Linked DNA regions of Homo sapiens. The protein of the gene in region 2 purifies or fractionates together with the protein of the main gene of each other region. This does not show direct contact. Each region holds a gene or a part of one and is shown on either strand. Other genes may lie near its edges. The genes, in order: ANKRD13A, KCNIP2 and S100A7.

Region 1 (7,104 bases), on a different chromosome or scaffold from region 2:
TGTCAACAACATTGACGAACATTTAGTTAGATAGACCAGGGAAAAAAGAGAGAAGACTTAACTTACTAAAATCAGGAATTAAAGATGGAATATTAGCAACTCTACAGAAATAAAAAGGATTATAAAAGAAAACTATGGGCCGGGTGCAGTGGCTCATGCCTGTAATCCCAACACTTTGAGAGGCCGAGGCGGGTGGATCACTAGAGGTCGGGAGTTCGAGACCAGCCTGACCAACATGGAGAAACCCCGTCTCTACTAAAAATACAAAATTAGCCGCGCGTGGTGGCACATGCCTGTAGCCCCAGCTACTCAGGAGGCTGAGGCAGGAGAATTGCTTGAACCCGGAAGGCGGAGGTTGTGGTGAGCCGAGATTGTGCCATTGCACTCCAGCCTGGGCAACAAGAGTAAAACTTCGTCTCAAAAAATAAAATAAAATAAAAGAAGACTATGAACAACTGTATGCCAACAAATTAGACAACTTAGATGAACAAGATAAATCCCTACAGAAATGCAAACTAGCAAAACTGACTCAAAAAGAAACCAAAAATCTGAATAAGTTTATAACAAGAGATTGAATTAGTAATTTTAAAACTGCCCACCAAAAAAAATGCAGGCCCAGATGGGTTTTTTTTCCAGACTGAGTCTCGCTCTGTCGCCCAGGCTGGAGTATAGTGGCACAATCTCAGCTCACTGCAACCTCCACCTCCCAGGTTCAAGTGATTCTTGTGCCTCAGCCTCCTGAGTAGCTGGGATTACAGGTGCCCACCACCACACCTGGCTAATTTATGTACTTTTAGTAAAATTGGGGTTTTGCCATGTTGGCCAGGCTGGTCTTGAACTCCTAACCTCATGTGATCTGCCCACCTCAGCCTCCCAAAGTGCTGGGATTACAGGCACGAGCCACCATGCCTGGACTTCACTGGTGAATGCTATTAAACATTTAAAGAATTAATACCAATGTTTCACAAACTTTTCCAATAAATAGATGAAGAAGGAAAACTTTCCAATTCATTTTATGAACCCACTATTATCCTGATGACAAATGCGTCACAAGAAAAGAAAACCACACACTAATATCTCTTATGATATAGATGCAAAAATCCTCCACGATATACTGGCAAACTAAATTCAGCAACATATAAAAAGGGTATTATACACTATGACCAACTGAGACTTATCCTACAAATATAAGAATGGTATAACTTCAGATAGTCAATTAACGTATTACACCATATCATAGGATAAAACAAAATACATGATCATCTCAACAGCTGCAGCAAAAACATCTGACAAAACTCCAACATCCCTTCATGATTAAAAGAAAAAAACCAAAACTCTCAACATACTAGGAATAAAAGGAAACTTCCTCAAAAAGCATCTCTAAAAAACCCACAACTAACATCATAGTTAATGGTGAAAGACTGGATGTTTCCCCTCTAAGATGAGGAACAAGATGAGGATGTCCTCTTTCACCATATCTAGTCAACATTGTACTAGAGATTCTAGTCATGGCAACTGGGCAAGAAAAATAAATAAAAAGCATCCAGAATGGAAAGGAAGATGACATGATCTTGTGTATAAAATCCTAAGGAATCCACCAAAAAACTATTAGAACTATTAAATGAGTTCAGCAAGGTTTCAGGACACAAGATCAATAACTAATCAATTATATTTCTACATACTTGTAATGAGCAACTCAAAAATGAAATTAAGACAACAATTCCATCTATAATAGCATCAAAAAATAAAACATTTAGGAATAAATATGACACAATAAATATAAAACTTACATACTCTTAAACCATAAAACATTGTTTAAAAAAAATTAAAGAAGAACTGGCCTGGTGTGGTGGCTCACACCTGTAATCCCAGCACTTGGGGAGGCTGAGGTGGGCGGATCACCTGAGGTCGGGAGTTCGAGACCAGCCTGACCAACATGGAGAAACCCCACCTCTACTAAAAATACAAAATTAGCCGGGCGTGGTGGCACATGTCTGTAATCCCAGCTACTTGGGAGGCTGAGGCAGGAGAATCGCTTGAACCTGGGAGACGGAGGTTGCAGTGAGCCAAGATTGTGCCATTGAACTCCAGCCTGGGCAACAATAGTAAAAACTCCATCTCAAAAAACAAACAAACAAAAAAAACCTCAAAAAATTAAAGAAGACCTAAATAAATTGAAAAACATCCTTATGCTCATGGTTTAAAAGACAATATTGTTAAAATGACAAAACTCTCCAAACTGAGGTATAGATTCAATTCAACTCCTATCAAAATCTCAGCTGGCTTTTTGCTGACATTGACAAGCTGATCTTAGAATTCATGTGGAAATGCAAGAAACCTAGAATAGCCACCTTGAAGAGAGAGGTCTGAGGACTCACATTTCACGCTTGCCAATTTTAAAACGTACTACACAAAGCTACAGCAATCAAGACAACGTGGTACTGGCATAAGGACAGACATACAGGTCAATGGAATACAATTTAGAGTCCAGAAATAAACCCACACATTTATGGTCAATTGATTTTCAACAAGGGTGCCAAAATAATTCATTGGGAAAGAACTGTCCTTTCAACAAGTGCCGCTTGAACAACTGCATATCTACATGCAAAAGAACAAAATTTTGGCTGAGCTCATTGGCTCATCCCTATAATCCCAGCACTTTGGGAGGCCAAGGCGGGAGGATCACCTGAGGTAGGGAGTTCGAGATCAGCCTGATCAACATGGAGAAACTCCATCTCTACTAAAAATACAAAATTAGCCAGGCATGGTGGCGCATGCCTGTAATCCCAGCTACTCGGGAGGCTGAGGCAGGAAAATTGCTTGAACCTGGGAGGCGGAGGTTGTGGTAAGCCGAGATCACACCATTGCACTCCAGCCTAGGCAACAAGAGCGAAACTCCATCTCAAAAAAAAAAAGACAACCCATGGAATGGGAGAAAATATTTGCAAATCACATACTGATAAGGGCCTACTATCCAGAATATGCAAAGAACCTTTACAACTCAACAAGTCAAATAACTCAATTTTTAAATGGGCAAAGGATTTGAGATGACATTTCTCCAAGGAAGATACACAAATTGCCAATAAGCACATGAAAAGATGCTCAACATCATTAATCATAAGAGAAATGCGAATCAAAACCACAATGAGATGCCACTTCACACCCACTAGGATGCGTACAAACAAAACAACAGATAATACCAAGTGTTGACAAGGATGTGAAGAAACTGGAATCTCATACACTGCTGGTGGAAATGTAAAATAGTGCAGCCACTTCGAAAAATTGCTGGCAGTTCCGCAAAAAGTTAAAACATAGAGTAACTACATGACCCAGCAATTCCTCTCCAAGGTATATACCCAAGATAAATGAAAACATATACCCATACAAAAACTTATACATGGGGCTGGGTGCAGTGGCTCATGCCTGTAATCCCAGAACTTTGGGAGGCCAAGGTGGGCTGATCACTTGAGGTCAGGAGTTCAAGACCAGCCTGGCCAACATGGTGAAACCCCATCTCTACTAAAAATACAAAAATTAGCCAGGCGTGGTGGTGCACACCTGTAATCCCAGCTACTAGGGAGGCTGAGACAGGAGAATCGCTTAAACCCAGGAGGCAGAGGTTGCAGAGAGCTGAGATCATGCCACTGCACTCCAGCCTGGGCAACAAAGCAAGCTGTCTCAAAAAAAAGGAAACCCACAAAAACATATACACAAATACACACAGCAGCGTTACTCATAATAGCCAAAAAGTGGCGACAACCCAAATGTCCATCAACTGACAAACGGAGAAACATTTTCGTCTAACAAACAAAACATAGTACATCCATGCAATGGAATATATTCAGTGATAAAAAGGAATTAAGCACCTGAAACATGCCACAACGTAGATGAACCTCCAAAACATTATGCTAAGTAAAAGAAGAAACAAAAGGCCACATATGATTCTATTTATATGAAATGTCCAGAATAGGCAAATCTAGAGACAGGAAGTAGGTTAGCAGGTTGCCTGGGCTGGAGGGGTTGGGGAGAAATGAGGAGTGACTACTACAGGTATGGGGTTTCTTTTTCGGGTGAGGAAAATATTACAGGGTGGGTGCAGTGGCTAACACCTGTAATCTTAGCACTTTGGCAGGCCAAGGCAGGAGGACTGCTTGAGCCCAGTCTGGGCAACATAGGGACACATTTTCTCTACAAAAAAATCTTTAAAAATTAGCCAAGCGTGGTAGTGCTTGCTTGCAGTCCTAGCTATTTGGGAGGCTGAGGTGGGAGGATTGCTTAAGCCGAGAAGGTCAAGGGTGCAGTGAGCTGTGATGGTGCCAGCCTAGGCAAGAGAGTGAGACCCTGTCTCAAAAACAACAAAAAAACAAAAAAGAAAGAAAAAGAAAAAAATTTCTGAAATTTGACAGTAGTGATAGTTGCATAACTCAGCAGATATACTAAAAACCATTGAATAACCTTTAAATGTAGATTATATAAGTGAACTATATCGCAATAAAAATCTTTTGAAAAAATCAATCTGTATATGTTTATACATAATACATAAAACGAATCTCTCATGTACTGTTTGACAAGTTGCTTAATTCCTCCTGAGCTTCAGTTTGCTCGCTTGTAAAACTGAACAATAAAAAAAACCTACCTTACAGTTCTTACAAGGGGAAAGTCCTTAACTTAGCACGGTGCTTGACACCACAGTAAGTGCTGAGAAGAGTTACCTGTTATTATCATACGCCCACACTATGTAGTTTCATATAGCTGTCACTTTCTCCCTAAAAGGGATTTGCTCAAATTGCATTACAGTTATTAGTGGGGCTTAGAATCTTCAACTAATAATATGAGTTCAGAGAACAAGGAGTTTCAGAATTTAGCTGGAATTCACTTTTTCTTTTGAGACAGAGTCTCCCTCTTGTTGCCCAGGCTGGAGTGCAATGGTGCAATCTTAGCTCACCGAGATCTTGGCTCACTGCAACCTCTGCCTCCCAGGTTCAAGCAATTCTCCTGCCTCAGCCTCCCGGGTAGCTGGGATTACAGGCATGCACCACCACGCCTGGCTAATTTTGTATTTTTAGTAGAGACGGGGTTTCTCTGTGTTGGTCAGGTTGGTCTCGAACTCCCGACCTCAGGTGATCCGCCCACCTCGGCCTCCCAAAGTGCTGGGATTACAGGCCTGAGCCACCACGCCCGGCTGGAATTCACTTTCGAAACTGATCATTTAGGTTTTCCTTTTAAGTTTCTTTAGCCATGAGCTATACCCAAATAAAAATACCCATCCTCCTTTAACTAGGAGTTTCCTTCCTATTTGCTCATTTCAGCTCATCCACTTTTCTTGCTCAAAAGCCTTAAAAAAAATTTATTTTTTTTTTGAGATGGAGTCTCATACTGTTGCCGGGCCTAGAGTGCAATGGTGCGATTTTGGCTCACTGCAACCTCCGCCTCCCAGGTTCAAGCGATTCTCCCACCTCAGCCTCCCAAGTAGCTGGGATTACAAGCACCCGCCACCATGCCCAGCTAATTTTTCATATTTTTAGCAAAGATGGGGTTTCACTATGTTGGCCAGGCTAGTCTTGAACTCCTGACCTCATGATCCACCTGCCTTGGCCTCCCAAAGAGCTGGGAGTACAGGCGTGAGCCACCGTGCCCAGCCAAAAAAAATTTTTTTTTAAGGAGACGGAGTCTTACTATATTGGCCAGGCTGGTCTTGAACTCCTGTCCTCAAGCACTGACCCCACCTCAGCCTCCTCAATCAAAAGCCCTCTTTACTATCTTGCCATCCTCCTGCCGAGCTCTGAGGCCAGGCTGCAGAACCAGACAACTGGACACCCCTTCCAGCTTGCCCACTAGCCTCAGGTGAATTATCAGTTCCCCTGTGCCTTGGTACCTGGCATGCAGGAAGTGCTTCATAAACTCACTGTCACCTTTAGGGGGACTCCAGCAAGAGGCTGCTGGCTAGTCCTCCTCTCTCTCAACACAGACAACCACCCTCACTCCTCTTCACTCTCAGACCATCCTGGTCCTGTGTGGCCCCCACGCTGAGTCAGTGGAAACAGGAATCTTGAGGCCAGTTTCCTAAGGTGAGCTTGAACCCCCGATGACCAAGGGGGCACATGAGGAGAGCAGGCTCTAGGCTCTTCATCTTGGATGCCTAGCCCATGGCTCAGCGATTTGAATCTGTGCCCGGGGCCTCACCTGGCCTGCCCCAGGCTGGAGTGAGAACCCCAGGAATGTCCTCCTCTTACCTAGGTGCTATACTTTTCACCTGCTGGCTTCCTAAACAGGGAGCCTGGCTCTAGAGTCAGGCCTCATTTGCCACCCTCCACCTCACACAACCCAGGTTTTCCAACCCTGTCTAAGGTACACTGACTCACCTTTGCATCTGTCCCCTTAAGTGTTCATGTCTCACCATCAGTAAGAAGGCCAAAGAAGTTTAACAGACTTCTTTAGCTAAGCGGCCAACGACATAAGCAGAACACAAACAGTTTCAACTTCAGCAACCAACTTCAAGGCCCCACTGAATATTAATGAGCTGATGGGTTAAGAGGCACTTTATTAAATGCCTCTGCTGATCAAATGAAGGCCTGAAACAATCTGGTAGTTGGCATAGTTACACAACTGCCTGCTATTAGTGAGACAGTGGGATTGGGGCTGGCTCACACACACAGAAACACGTGCTTATCCTCTTCATCTGGATAAACTTGATTCTTTCTTGTGTTGCTGTTCCTGGAACAGGAACAAAAAACCTGGAAAAAAATTCTTACAGCTATCAGTATACATGCTCCAAGTCTCAATCAGGTGATAGACGGAATGAGGAAACTGACAGCAGAAACTCACCAGCAAACAAAACATTAAGGGAAACAGCCACTTTATTGCTGGGGTGATAAGAATTTTTTGGGTTTTTTTTGTTTTTTGAGTCGGAGCCTCGCTCTGTCTCCCAGCCTGGAGTGCAGTGGCACGATCTTGGCTCACTGCAACCTCAGCCTCCTGGATTCAAGCGATTCTCCTGCCTCAACCTCCTGAGTAGCTGGGATTACAAGCACGTGCCACCACATCCAGCTATTTTTGTATTTTTAGTAGAGACGGGGTTTCACCGTGTTGGTCAGGCTGGTCTCC
Region 2 (7,104 bases):
ATCTGTGCAGTGTAGCTTATGGGGTGTGTGGGCATAGTGTGTGAGAGACACAGGGTGTGACTTTGTGTTCCTGTATGTGAGAGAGTACAAAGTGTGTAACTGTGAGCCTGTGTATGGGACAGGGATATGACTGTATGTGTGAGAGTGACAGGGCATGTGGCTTTGTGAGAAGGTGGATGTGGCCAGGCCTGAGTGGCACAGTATGTGGCTGAGCCTCTGGGTATCAGGTTGTGCATGTGGCTGTTTCCAGAATTTCCTGAGGATATACCAGCTCCATACCCAAGGCTTGGGAGGAGGTGGGTTCTGGAGGGAAGAGTGTGAACATTGTGAAGGAGACATTTATAGCCCAGCTATGATTGGGGATGAGGAGTGGATCAGATCAGGGACCCTGCTTCCCAAGTCCCCTTGCCTCTCCAAGCTCCTATCAGGATCCAAGTGCAGAGTGATCTCCAGGGCCTAGACATTGGGAGTGGAAAATCAACTCCCCTCCCCAGCCCACCCCAAAGTCAGTAGGGAGAGTAATATTGGGGTGGAGTGGGGAGCACTTCTGCCTCCCCCTTGGGAGTTTTGACCTCTCCCTCCTCTTCACGGCTAGAACTGTGTAACTCCGTAGCATGGCTGTTCCCCAGTACCACCAGGGACAGGAAGACAGACTAGAACCATGATGGAGGACTGCAGGGTAGATACCTGGAAGAACTGGAAAAATATGAAGGAAACTGGGAACAAGAGGAAGGTGCATGAATTGCCTGCTCTAGGGTTCAGTAAGAGCAGAAAACTCCTAGCTCACCCTCCATCCTCTGCTGCATTTATTGGGGTGGAGTGGGGAACAGGGAGTTGGACCTAGATAAACTGGGACAGCTGGGCTGAGCTTGTTCTCATTCAATCTGGAAAAGGTGAAGTTGATTGAGCTCTAACTTGCCATTCCTTTTAGATGGGAAAGGGGGAAGAGAGGGCATCTGGAAATCCCAGGAGTCTTGGGCTGAAGGCAGCCATTCTGTTCTCACCTTTAGAGGAGACAGAGGCTTAGAAGCAGGTAGGGGGCTGGGGTGGGGGGCAGGAGAGCCACCCCCGAGTCGGGCAACTACACCATTGGAGGCCCCAGGCGCAATCCAGCTTTGGGAAACTAGAGTCCAGGCTAATGGAGCCCTGGGCCAGAGGCCAGGAATGCCATCGATCCCCCTGCCTGGCCCACTGCCTCCCTCCCACCTCTCCATGGCTCCTGGGGTGGGAGGGAGGTAAGGATGTGTTGAAGGAGAGGAGGTGGTTACTCACCCAGTCACCTCCTGAGAACAGGGCCTGATCTGGAGGGTGAAGCCTGGATTGGGAGGGTGGGGTATATGGAGGGGGAGTAACCTTTAACTAAAGGAAGTTGGACCCCTCCAGGAATGGACTGAGGCCAACTTTAGTCACTGTGTCAGATCCAGTGGGATCTGATCCAGGAATCTGGATGCAGTGCAGCTGGGAGACACAGACACACACACACACACACACACACACACACACACACACACACACAGTAACACTGAGGGTCCTCTGGGGGTGCAATTAGAGCTGTAGAGCATGTGCAGAAATAAGGGAGAAGAGGGGAAGGGGAGCCATGATCAGTGGGCCATGGATAGCCCCACAATACACCAGAATACTCGCCTCCAAGATCTCTTATTGCCACAAAGTTTACTATTATTTCACCCTCAAAGAGCAAGCCATACTGGAAGAGACTGTGAAGGGGCCACAGTTTAGGGTAGATGAGTTAGCTGATGAGGAACCCTGCCCTTTGGCAGAAAGATTCTGGGCACCTTGGAATGAGGAGGGGTTACAGGAAAGAAAAGTGGGTGTACCCAGGAAAAATGAAGCCTCTGTGGGTGAGGTATTGAGGTACAGCCTTAGATATCTGGGTGCCATGGGGACCCAGGTCACAGTATGATATGGATATGTGTCATGACAACCTTGATATGTCTCATAATGTTATAAGGTCACAATGTCATAGTGTTCTTTGTAGACTCACATGTCATGATGTCCCAGAGGCATTGTGTGTTCTTGTGTGGTTTGATCATGCTGTGTGTGAGATGGCCTATATGGGTCTCCATGTGTATGCATCCTGTTTTACTTAGGTCACATTTGTATATGTTTGTGTTAAGGAGTTAGCAGGTCATTGTGTGTGTGTGTGTGAGCATGCATATTACGCCATCAGGTGTGAGTTACTGGATATCAAGCTGTCACTGGCACCCATCACTGTGATGTATTGTTCTACATGTCACTATACACGCCTGTCACTGTAGGTGTGTGTATGAGAGAGGTGTTCTTACCCAGGCAATCCTTGGGTTGGACATCATCCTGAGAGGTCCAGCCATGGCACTTGAGCCAAGGGTACTAGGTCAGCAAAGACACTGAGGCCACTGCCACCTCATCCTTGCCGCCTCGCTGTCACCGGCCACGTCCCATTAAACCAAGTGCCTGAGCCTCACCTCTATGGACTCACTGGGCTCCCCTAACCCGATTCCAACCACCCTTGCCATTCCTTTCCTCCCCTTAATTCCTCCCCCAGCCCGGTCCCCAGATGGGGTTGATTTGTGACTGGCGGGGAGGGGACAGGGAACAGAGGGACAATGGGAGTTAATGTGCCTTCCTGGGGTCTTCTCTCTTCCCAGGCCACCCTCCAGGGCCCACTAAAAAAGCGCTGAAGCAGCGATTCCTCAAGCTGCTGCCGTGCTGCGGGCCCCAAGCCCTGCCCTCAGTCAGTGAAAGCAAGTGCCTCTCATGTGCTTCCGGGGGCGGGGCTCGATGTGTGCGTGCGTGTCTGTGCATGAGTGTGTGCGCGTGTGCCCCAGGCCTGCGAGTGTGCGCATGCTCCAGGCCTGCATGTGTGGGGGGGCGTGCCCCAGGCCTGCGTGTGTGGGGGTGGGGCCTGCCCCAGGCCTGTGCGTGTGTATGTGTGTGCATGTGCGCGCGAGCGTGCCCCAGGCCGGCGTGTGTGTGTGGGGGGGCGTGCCCTACCCCTGCATGTGTGTGGAGGGCGTGCCCCAGGCCCGCGCGCGTGTGTGTGTGTATGGGGAGGCGTGCCGCACGCCTGCGTGTGGGGGAGGGGCGTGCCCCAGGCCTGCGTGCGTGTGTGTGTGTGTGTGTGTGTGTGTGTGGGCGTGACCAGCGTGGCGAGGGCGGGTGCTGGCAAGGCTGGAGCATAAGGGGGCGTGGCTACTGTGTGCGTGTGCGGCTGAAGCCAGCGTGTGTGGGCGTGGTCAGTTGGGAGCGGGTGTGTGTCACCGCTCCCGCAAAACTGTGGGACCCGAGAGTGTGGGTGTGACCATTGTGACCAGGCTGAGGCCTGAGCCTGTGTAGCTGTGGCGGCCTGTGTAGACCAGGCGGCCGTGAGGGTCTGTATGTGGCTTAGCTGGGTTAGTGTCTTCAACTCCGTGCGGCCGCCCCCTTCCCCACCGTGTTTTGGACCCCTGATGTGTGTTGCCTATGCCCCGACAGGATGGTGACAGGTGTAGAGGATGGCGCCTGCCCTCCTCCAGACGCCAGGGTATTTGGGTTTTCTGTGCCAGCCTGGTCCCCTGCTGAGTGATCTCCAGTTGAGTGACCTCGCTTTGTCTCTAGGTCTCCATTTCCTCAGTTGGGCCTTGCCCACCTCATAGGATCATACTGCATTTTGCAAACCATAAAGGCCCGCTTTGTAGTTATTTGAGCATGCTGTTGTGTTGGACTTAGATGGGTCCCACACGGGGGTGGATTCGGAAAAGGACAGGCGTGAGTCCCGCAAGCTTGTGTGCATGGGGTCCGTTTCGTGTGTGTCTGTGCTGGTTGGGTGTGCCTTTGCACGGGCTGGGTTGTGAGGTTTGCTCTGAGTGTGAGGGGCCAGGTGTGTGTCTGCAGTTGGCCGGGTCTTCCGCTTTCTCGGTGACAGTTCGCTCCCTTCAGCATTAGCCGCCCCAGCCTCCCTCCGCCCCCACAGACCCCGCCTGCTGGACCCAGGTGACTTACGCTCCTGGTGGGGGCGGGGCGGGGCAGGGCGGCTTTGCCATCTTGGGGTGGGGGGCACTTGCCTGGGGGCTGGACGTTGGGGGCGGGGCAGGATTGAGATGGGGCCGGGGGTGGGGTCTGGATGGAGGTTGGCTGAGCTGGGCGGGGCATGGCTCAGGCATGGCTGGGATAGATGGGGCTGGGCGGGGCGAGGGGAGGGGCTGGGTGGGACGAGGGGAGGGTTTGGGCGGGGCAAGGCTGGGGCTGGGCGGATCTGAGTTGGTCCCCGAAGGCCCGGAGCTCTGACCCTCAGACGCCCCCTCTTGAACTGGCTTTTCCCACTCCTCCCTTTCTAAAACGAAGATGCGGCTGGGGGCCTTCCCCTCCAACGAGGGATCGAGGGCCGCGGGGCGAGCACTGAGTCGGATCCCTGGCTCTGGGGCCAGGCCAGGCCTTGGCCCGCTGATAGACCTCGAAGATGGCCATCATCTTTTCTCCTTACCTCAGTGTCCTTGGCTCGGGGCCCAGGGAACTGGCAGCCTGGTCTCCGGCATCGGATGGGACCGGGGGGCGGGGAGGGGGTGAATGGGGCAGTGATTTGAAGAGGGGTCGCGGAGGCTGGGCCTGAGGCGCGGCTGTCCTCACCGCTCCCGCAGACAGCGTGGACGATGAATTTGAATTGTCCACCGTGTGTCACCGGCCTGAGGGTCTGGAGCAGCTGCAGGAGCAAACCAAATTCACGCGCAAGGAGTTGCAGGTCCTGTACCGGGGCTTCAAGAACGTGAGTGCAAGGCGAGGCCAAACTCAGCGAGGGTGGGACAGGAGGACCCAAGCCGGTCCACAGCTTCCCAGAAAGCATGGCTTGGATGCTTGAGGTGTGGGCGGAAGGGAGGCAAGGCCCTGAGACTGAACTTCTAGCTGGAGGTTCTGGGGCGGGGCCAGAACGGAAGTGGCGCCTGTAGACTGTCAGTTTCGTTCCATGTTTTTTATTTGTGCACTGGGAAAGAAGTCTTCCCTCCCATCACATGAGCCACGTGGTGAGTCCTCTGGAGGCTTGAAGATTATCCCCCTCCCTGGGAGTCTTGGGCCATGGAGGGTGGGGGCGGTGAACGGAAGGGGATTTTGTCTCTGCCCTCAGCCTGGTGCCCTCTCCTTCCAGGAATGTCCCAGCGGAATTGTCAATGAGGAGAACTTCAAGCAGATTTACTCCCAGTTCTTTCCTCAAGGAGGTGAGGGGACAAGGCCCAAGGGGAAGCAGTTGTCCTTCTCTAGGCTGAGGGAGGGAGGGATTCTGGAGGAGCTGGGAATGCCAAGGTGATGGGGGGTATGGGGAGCTCCTTAGAGGGAGGAAGTCCTCTCCTGTGTGGAAGCCAACTTCTCCACACTCACCCTGCAGACTCCAGCACCTATGCCACTTTTCTCTTCAATGCCTTTGACACCAACCATGATGGCTCGGTCAGTTTTGAGGTGAGCTGGGCGAGGTGGGCCAGGGAAGCCTGTTTCCTGGAGTTCAGGGCCAGGATCTCCAGGCCAAACCCAGAGAAGGAGTTGGGTGAAGAGTACCCGAGGACACAGCTCCCTCCTGCCTCCTTCCCAGGACTTTGTGGCTGGTTTGTCCGTGATTCTTCGGGGAACTGTAGATGACAGGCTTAATTGGGCCTTCAACCTGTATGACCTTAACAAGGACGGCTGCATCACCAAGGAGGTGCAGGGCAACTGAAGGGCTGGGGGTCTGTGGCGGTGATGGGGGTGGCGTGCAGAGGGTGATGGGAGGGAAATATGACCCACATATGCCCACAAGCAAGGGATCAAGGGAGGCTGGAGGCTCTGAGGAAGGATCCTCTTCTCTCTTGGCCTAACAGGAAATGCTTGACATCATGAAGTCCATCTATGACATGATGGGCAAGTACACGTACCCTGCACTCCGGGAGGAGGCCCCAAGGGAACACGTGGAGAGCTTCTTCCAGGTACTTGGGAGTGGGTAGGCTGGAGGGCCCTGGAGTGAAGGGAAGAAGGCCAAGAACCAGCAGGGAACTCACCTGACTTCTGTCTGCCTCTCTCTTGCCATCCCTCCTGTTCTCCCTGCCTGACCACCTTCTTGCAGAAGATGGACAGAAACAAGGATGGTGTGGTGACCATTGAGGAATTCATTGAGTCTTGTCAAAAGGTACAGCTCCCTGCCCTCTACATTACCCTGACCTGGACTCAGGCCTGATTTAGTAATGCAGGGAAAAGCTTCTTTGGGAAGAATACCACCTTCCCACCTCACCCCCATATTTCAATCCTATTCCTTTGTGGGAGGCTTACCCCTTCCCTACCTCAGGTCTCTCTGGGCATCTCCTTCCTCTGTGCTTTTGAATGTCCCCGTCTGTGACTCAGTGTCCCTCTCACTGTCTCTGATAAGCTCCTTCTCTTTCTCTCTCTTCAATCTGCCTCGCTCACATCATGGCCACAGGATGAGAACATCATGAGGTCCATGCAGCTCTTTGACAATGTCATCTAGCCCCCAGGAGAGGGGGTCAGTGTTTCCTGGGGGGACCATGCTCTAACCCTAGTCCAGGCGGACCTCACCCTTCTCTTCCCAGGTCTATCCTCATCCTACGCCTCCCTGGGGGCTGGAGGGATCCAAGAGCTTGGGGATTCAGTAGTCCAGATCTCTGGAGCTGAAGGGGCCAGAGAGTGGGCAGAGTGCATCTCGGGGGGTGTTCCCAACTCCCACCAGCTCTCACCCCCTTCCTGCCTGACACCCAGTGTTGAGAGTGCCCCTCCTGTAGGAATTGAGCGGTTCCCCACCTCCTACCCCTACTCTAGAAACACACTAGACAGATGTCTCCTGCTATGGTGCTTCCCCCATCCCTGACCTCATAAACATTTCCCCTAAGACTCCCCTCTCAGAGAGAATGCTCCATTCTTGGCACTGGCTGGCTTCTCAGACCAGCCATTGAGAGCCCTGTGGGAGGGGGACAAGAATGTATAGGGAGAAATCTTGGGCCTGAGTCAATGGATAGGTCCTAGGAGGTGGCTGGGGTTGAGAATAGAAGGGCCTGGACAGATTATGATTGCTCAGGCATACCAGGTTATAGCTCCAAGTTCCACAGGTCTGCTACCACAGGCCATCAAAATATAAGTTTCCAGGCTTTGCAGAAG
Region 3 (7,573 bases), on a different chromosome or scaffold from region 2:
CTCCTCAGGTCTTGTGCTGGATGTAAAACCTGTGTTGCCATAGAGCCACCGACTCTCTCTGTGTCTTTCTTTAACCCTTGCCTTCCCTTCAAAACCTAACAGTGGGACCACAGGCTCTGGGCTGCAGCTGGGTGTTCTCATCCTCCAGTGTGGATGGCTCACAGCAGAACTGAGTCCTAATAACCTCTTGTGAATGCTGCAGAACTCTCTCTCTGTCTCTCTGTCCCGCTCCCCCAACTGCTGCACGAGTCCAGAGATGCAGCTGGCCAACACCACCCAGAAGGACCCCAAACAGAACAGCTGGCTGTCTCGGAACATTCCCGTGGCTCCCTCTGCCCTGTCCCTCTCACCGTGGCTCCTGGAAGTGCTCTATGGCCTATTGAAAGGACGCCCCTACAAAGCTTCCCCTGGTTCCCCCACCTGAAAAGTGATTTCTCCTCTTCCAAATTCTCACACACTTTATCTGAACCTTTCTGAAGACACCTGCCTCACTTGCTAGTTTGGCCAATGTTTATGGAGTTCTCTGCACTGGAGGCTGGGGGCACAATATAAGACATGGCTGGGTGGCAGCAAACATAGCATATGTGTGGCCAGGGCTGTCACTGAGACACGCAGGGACATGGGGATGATGTCTCTGCCTGGAGAAGGCTTCACAGAGAAAGTGCCACTGAACTGCCTGGGGACCTGGGGGCTTCCGGGCGCTGTCCGACTCCACTCTCTCACCACCCAGTGGCTCATTGGAGTTCTCTCCTGGGGCCGGAGCATTGCTCAAAGCACGGTCCACTTTCAATCCATCTCCCTGCCACCCTGACACCTGCACACTCAGAACAGAGTCAGCACTCACAGCATAAATGAATGGATAAAATACAGCAAAAAGAACAAATTGCTTTCTGTTCTCTTCCCCCAGCAACTTGAGATCTTCTAGAGACCCAGGAGTATGTTGCTTCTACCTCAGACTGGGGAGAGGGGAGCTCCCCAAAACGATGGAGGAGATGAAGATATCAACCAGCCAAATTCCTGTTCACGACCAGCCTGTTGTGAGCTCTCCTGGGGGATCAGCAGTGGCTGAGAGGTTGGATGTGTGATGGAGTAGGGTGGGTTTATGGAGAGTGTTTGTTCCAGACATGACACAGGGGAAGGGCTCACAGGGTTCAACCTGATGAGCAGGTGCAAAAGATAAGGCCCCTATTAAGGCTAATTTGCTGAGATTTTCATTTTAGCAAAAACAAATGATCAGTTTTTTGGATGTCTCAAATATGTTTGAAATTTATGTGTATTCTCTATGGTTGGGCATGAATTTATGAATGTATGTGTGTATAAATAAATTTAAGTGTGTCCTTCAAATAGTTTATATCAGGAATCAGCAAATTATGGTCTTTAAGCCAAATCCAGCTGGCCACCTGTTTCTGGAGGTTAGTGTTTATTGGACACAGCCATCATCATTCACGGGGACTTGTGTCTGGGGCTGCTTCTGGGCTGTGGCAGCATCTGCCCGCCCTGCTCTGTGCCATTACTGGTGTTTTGTTATCTGATGGCTTTGTGAAGTTCCTGGGCAGACTCTGCCAAAACCTGCCAAGTGATATAAGTTTGTCAGTTTCCATTAATTTCTTTCAGTGTTTGCTTTATATAATTCAAAATTGTGTTCTTATGTGTATAAGGATAGGACTATTATTGCTGGGCCTGGTGGCTCACACCTGTAATCCCAGCACTTTGGGAGGCCAAGGAGGGTGGATTACCTGAGGTCAGGACTTCGAGACCATCCTGGCCAACATGATGAAACCCCATCTTTACTAAAAATACAAAAATTAGCTGGATGTGGTGGCGTGCACCTGTAATCCCAGCTACTCTGGAGGCTGAGGCAGGACAATCGTTTGAACCCAAGAGGAGGAGGTTGCAGTGAGCCAAGATGACACCACTACACTCTAACCTGGGTAACAAGAGCGAAATTCTGTCTCAAAAAAAAGAAAAAGAAAAAAAAAGAATAAGACTACCGCATCTTGGTGACTTGCACACTAATCAATAAGAAATATTCTTCTTTTTCATTTAATCCCTTTTCTTAGAATTCTTTGTTGTCTTGTATTAATATTGTTGTCCCTGATTCCTTTTGTATTACTTTTCCTCTGTTCCTTTTTTCTAAACAGTGATGATACATAACTCAAAATGAATCATAGACCTACATGCAAACACAATGTTACAAAACTCCTAGATGGTAGCATAAGAGGAAATTTGATCATCTTGGTTTTGGTGATGACTTTTAGATGGCAACACCAAGGCACAATCCATGAAAGAAAGAATTCATAAGCTGGACTTCTTTAAAATTTAACATTTCTCTTTGTGAAAGATATTGTCAAGAGAATGAAAAGATAAGCCACAGACTGGGAGAAAATGTTTACAAAAGACATATCAGACTTTGTATGTTATCCAAAACATACAAAGAACTCTTAAAACTCAACGATAAGAACACAAACCAAACAATTAGAAAATGGGCCAAAGACCTTAACAGATATCTCATCAAAGAAGATACAGAAGGTGACAAATAAGCATATCAGAAGATGCTCCACATCATATGTCCTCAAGGAAATGCAAATTAAAACAACAATGAGATACCAGTACACACTTATGAGAATGCCCAAAATCTGGAACACTGGACAACAGCAAATGCTGAAGAAGGATGTGGAGCAACAGGAACTCTCATTCATTGATGGCAGGAACACAAAATAGTACAGCCACTTTGGAAGACAGTTTAGTGCTTTCTTAAAAAACTAAACATACTCTTACCATAGGATCCAGAAATCACACTCCTTGGGATTTACCCAAAAGAAGTGAAAACTTATGTCCACACAAAAACCTGCATACACATATATATGAATATATGGCACAATGGTGAAGTCTGGGCTTTTAATGAAGCCATCCTAAATAGCATGCATTGTACCCACTAAGAAATGTCTCATCCTTCACCCACCGCCTCACCTGCTGCCCTTCACAGTCTCCAGTGTCTATGATTCTACTCTCTACCTCCATCTGTATGCATGATGTAGCTCCCACTTACACATGAGGTTGCACAGTATTTGACTTTCTGAGTAATTTCACTTAAGATAATAGCCTCCAGTTCCATCCATGTTGCCGCAAAAAGCGTGATTTCATTCTTTTTTTATAGCTGAGTAGCATTCCACTGTGTGTGTGTGTATGTATCTTTTGCTGTTAAAAGTAATATTGCCATCACATGGGGAACTGGGAGAGGGAGAAACAGGTCCCCCTGGTTACATAGGTACTGACGAGAAGGAAGTTGAAGAAAGATGATGGGTGGAGAAAATAGGTCCCACCTAGGGAGACATCACATCAGCTCTGTGGAGCCCCAGAGTGCTTAAAGGGCTGGCACTAAATGAACCTGGAACTCTCTTGCACCCTAAAAGGAACATTGCAAGGGGGTAGCAGAAAAAGTCCATTTCAGTGATTCATCATCTCCCTTTCCTCACCATGCCCCAGGGATTCCCATGCCTTCCCAACCCTCTTGCCCCTACCTGGGTCAGCCTTTCCACAGCAGGTTAGGGCACATTATAGCCAAGGGCACAACTCCCAACTCCTACACAGGCTGTTTTGCATAGGAGGAGGAAAAACACTGAAGACTTTCTGGGAAGTTAGTGCCATGGGGCAGGAAAGAACTTTTCCCACTCCCTGCCTCCAGGCTCATTCCATGGGGGGGTCACTCCACCACTCAACCTAGATAGTGAGGCCCCTGACCCCAGTCCCCCCACCTAATTCCAGGGCTTCTGTGAGGGGCTGACCAATGGTTAGCAATGAAGTAACCCTGCTTCCCTCCCTGGACTTTGAGTTCCCATAGGGCAGACCCTGATGTGACCCAAGACCTATAGCACAGGGGATAAGAGTAAGGATTTGATTCAGGCTTTTCTGAGTCCATATAATGATTTGTTGTGTTTACTAGCTGAGTAAACTTGGGAACATCTCAACTTCTCCTTTCCTAAAATAGAGATTGAAGCACCTCTTAGGACTATGAGGGTTGAGGAGGATGCAGGAGCAGCAGGTATCTTGATATCTAGACATTAAAATGCTCAGTCAGCGGTGGGGGTCATAGAACAGGCTGTCATAACAAATGTGTGGAAGGATAAGGGGAGGGAACAAACAAGACCATGCTGCCTTCAGGAGTCTGAAACTCCATCCTCTTTGGGTCCAGAGGCCCAGTGCTCTTTTCTCCCATTTTCTGACCTGCTACTACACATGTACCGCTGCCTTACCCTCAAATCAAGGTTGAGCCAGAGAAGACTCCAGGTGAGGTCTCTGGGGTGGGGTGGGACCTGGTGACCTGGGACACTGGCCAGAAATCCTGAGCACAGCCTCCTGGGTGTGTCCCACCCACCTGATGTGGGGCAAGCCTCCAAGAAACAGATGACAGAGGTGGCCCCAGGCCTCCCAGCCCCTGGGAAGAGCCAGGCTGAGCCTTATAAAGGACTGCTCTTTGTCCAAACACACACATCTCACTCATCCTTCTACTCGTGACGCTTCCCAGCTCTGGTAAGTCTCACCTGCCTCTTTGCGTTTTCTAGAAGTGCCCAGTGCCTGGCCTGCCATGCTGCCTGTAGGAAGGGAAAGGGCTGTGGACAAAGACTCAGAAGCCTGGGTCTAGGCCAGCTCTGCCATTAGCTGGGCTGTGTGACCTTCACTTGACCCCAAAAGCCCACGTCTGTATAACCAGGTGGCTGAACCAGACCTGTCCATTGCTCCTTTGGGATCTCCTGAGGCAACTCCTGTGGAAATGTCCCCAGTGGGACCTGAGCACAGGACCCTCCCTGTCCTCTTCCTCCCTGGATTCATCCTCCTGTTGGGGTCCCGGTTGCTAAATCCCCTCCCCAGCTCCAGCTCCACAGAGGGTGGAGGGCTAGGGGTCCCCTGTGAATGCTTTGGAGGCTCTCCAAACCCCCAGGCCTGGGACCCCGACACAGCATAGCCCTGGCCAGATGGCTTGCCCCTACCTGGGTAAGGTATTGAGAAACCAACGCTCCGTCACTCCCTACCACAACCTGCAAATTGTCAGTCACCCTCTGGGCACAGGGCTTGCCCTCTGGCCTTGGCCTCAGATTCAAAAAAGCTCTGGGTGGCTCCTCTTAGTCAGTTGCCGGCATGGAGCTTTCTCCTGCATTGAGAGGTGTTGGGGGTTTATTGTCAGACACCCATATGCATTAGCCAAGGTCCTTTCCTGGTTCTTTGGAAAGTGTGGGAAGTGAGAACTGCACTGTCCTATTTTTCAGGCTTGGGGTGCAGGCCAGCCCAGACTGACTACTGGCTGAAAGATCTGCTTTGGGAAGTCAGACATTTTTATTTAAACAGTCAAGGCTTGGTGATTCAGAGGGTGCAGATAATTCCCAAGAGCAGACATGAAGTGACTCCCACCTCACTCCCACCCCGTCCAGCAGCTTAAGAACCAGAGAGTTATTTCTGTTCCTTGTAACAGAGGCCATTCCTGTTTCTCGTTCCCAAGGGAATACAAGAAGGGCCCCCTGTGCTCGGGACAGGACTGTGTTTCCTGCTAACACTCACGTCCACGCTCACATGTGCACCTGGAGCCTGCACACACCGTGTCATGCAGGGCTTGCACTTGAGTCAAGGTGGGGCCCACGGTGTCTGGTTCCTGAAGCAGCCGAGGAGGGTCAGACACCAGATCACCAAGGCCATTGTCCTGCCCCCATGACTGTCACCCCGACTGTGAAGCTGGAGGAGATGGATTTGGTGCTCTTTTAAGAGTGGGGTCTGCCATGTGCTGGCTGAGGCTGGGGTGTCCCAGCTTAGTTCTTCCATGTGTTGCTGGCGCCCGACTCTCCCTGCTTCTCCCTCTCTGAAGCACTGTCCACAGCTGGACTTCCGCCATCCACCTGCATCTCCTCTTGGCCCTGGCCAGGATGGGCCAGGTCTCAGACTTGGTCCTACCCTCTCATTTTTGAGCAACTTATCCCATCACATTAAAAAAAAATTGAGTTCGTTCTGCTACACCTTATCCGTGTTTTTACTCTGTCCTCAGCCCTCCTTCCAGCACTCCCAAATAGAGACCCTAACTTAAATGAAGGGAAAAAAATGATTGTCTTTATTTCCTGAAGGCTTTTTGAAAGCAAAGATGAGCAACACTCAAGCTGAGAGGTCCATAATAGGCATGATCGACATGTTTCACAAATACACCAGACGTGATGACAAGATTGAGAAGCCAAGCCTGCTGACGATGATGAAGGAGAACTTCCCCAACTTCCTTAGTGCCTGTGTGAGTCGGTGTCTAGCTTCTCAATGTTGGAGGATACATTTTGCTATGTGGCCTTGGACAGATCACCCTCACCCTCTGATTAAAAAATTTCCCATTTGCAAATAGGGCTTTATTACTTGGATCATATGTGAATCTAAGGATGGTAGGCAAAAAAGTATGAAAATGGGAAAGAGTTATACAGATATAAAGGAGGTTATTAGATGGTCAGCAAAGTGTGCAGCTTGAGGGCAGTGCACAGTCCCCTCCCAGCACTCACTGACCCTCTCTCTGTGAGACTGAAACTCACATGCTCAGGTCCTGTTTCCCAAAGGCCCCACATCAACATCCCTGAGATTACTGGGAAAGCACTAGAAGTTCCATTGTTAGTAGAAATCAATAGCCCTCTTTGCAATAAACAAGACTCATTAGCAAATCTGAAAAAAAACTGTGGGCTACTAGGTACCAAAGGGTCTAGATGACCAAGAGTAGGATACCCAGAAGATGAGTTTGGTGGAAAAGGAGAAGAAAGGAGAGGAGGCCAGAGAAAGAAGAGAACAAAAGCATGAGGGCCAATTTTGAGGCCCTGGGGTAGAACTAAGGTAGGCAGTGCCCTTAGAGGCTGGGACGGGAAAGAGTGAGGCTGGGGCAGGGGACTGCTCTCCCCAAGGTCACTTAACAGAGCACCTTGGGACAGGACCTGCCTCCCATCCTGAGGTGTGAGACAAAAAGACTCCCTAGAGAACTCCAGGGATAACACTCACGTCCTCACCCCAACTTCACCCACTCACCCTGTGCTCTCAGCCCCGCCACCATGCCTGTGCAGATCTAGGTACTTGTCTGTATCTCTGCCTCCTCCTCTCCCTCCCAGCCCAAAACTTGTTTGTGATTGAATTTTTCTATTTTGTATGTTTTTCTCTTCACAGGACAAAAAGGGCACAAATTACCTCGCCGATGTCTTTGAGAAAAAGGACAAGAATGAGGATAAGAAGATTGATTTTTCTGAGTTTCTGTCCTTGCTGGGAGACATAGCCACAGACTACCACAAGCAGAGCCATGGAGCAGCGCCCTGTTCCGGGGGCAGCCAGTGACCCAGCCCCACCAATGGGCCTCCAGAGACCCCAGGAACAATAAAATGTCTTCTCCCACCAGACACTTGCCTTATTTTCTTCTTCTCTTTGGTGACCTACGTTGTCAAAACTACCAATTCCAGGTTAACTTTGTTGGAGAATTTCCCCCACCCCCATCCAGTGGGTCACCCAGGAGTAATGTCCCTCCAGCAACGTTCCCCCTATGGCCTCCAGCAGAGCTGAGCTGCCTCTCACACAGGTC

What was found.
Region 1: the proteins of KCNIP2 (region 2) and ANKRD13A purify together in Homo sapiens (affinity purification with mass spectrometry; 3 studies listed by BioGRID and IntAct, with this or other methods). This does not show direct contact.
Region 3: the proteins of KCNIP2 (region 2) and S100A7 purify together in Homo sapiens (affinity purification with mass spectrometry; 3 studies listed by BioGRID and IntAct, with this or other methods). This does not show direct contact.

Annotation. Positions count from the first base shown.
Region 1 is NC_000012.12:110,002,414-110,009,517, reverse strand, and holds part of ANKRD13A (ankyrin repeat domain-containing protein 13A), read right to left. Parts: intron 1-7,104. UniProt on the Homo sapiens protein: Ubiquitin-binding protein that specifically recognizes and binds 'Lys-63'-linked ubiquitin. Does not bind 'Lys-48'-linked ubiquitin.
Region 2 is NC_000010.11:101,826,709-101,833,812, reverse strand, and holds part of KCNIP2 (A-type potassium channel modulatory protein KCNIP2), read left to right. Parts: intron 1-2,645; coding exon 2,646-2,741; intron 2,742-3,870; coding exon of another isoform or gene 3,871-3,915; coding exon 3,916-3,969; intron 3,970-4,613; coding exon 4,614-4,738; intron 4,739-4,923; exon of another isoform or gene 4,924-5,095; coding exon of another isoform or gene 5,096-5,116; coding exon 5,117-5,186; exon of another isoform or gene 5,187-5,353; coding exon 5,354-5,424; exon of another isoform or gene 5,425-5,554; coding exon 5,555-5,662; intron 5,663-5,819; coding exon 5,820-5,924; exon of another isoform or gene 5,925-5,953; intron 5,954-6,061; coding exon 6,062-6,124; coding exon of another isoform or gene 6,125-6,172; intron 6,173-6,412; coding exon 6,413-6,460; 3' UTR 6,461-6,542; coding exon of another isoform or gene 6,543-6,605; 3' UTR 6,606-7,104. UniProt on the Homo sapiens protein: Regulatory subunit of Kv4/D (Shal)-type voltage-gated rapidly inactivating A-type potassium channels. Modulates channel density, inactivation kinetics and rate of recovery from inactivation in a calcium-dependent and isoform-specific manner.
Region 3 is NC_000001.11:153,457,565-153,465,137, reverse strand, and holds S100A7 (protein S100-A7), read left to right. Parts: upstream 1-4,486; 5' UTR 4,487-4,530; intron 4,531-6,107; 5' UTR 6,108-6,124; coding exon 6,125-6,265; intron 6,266-7,167; coding exon 7,168-7,332; 3' UTR 7,333-7,394; downstream 7,395-7,573.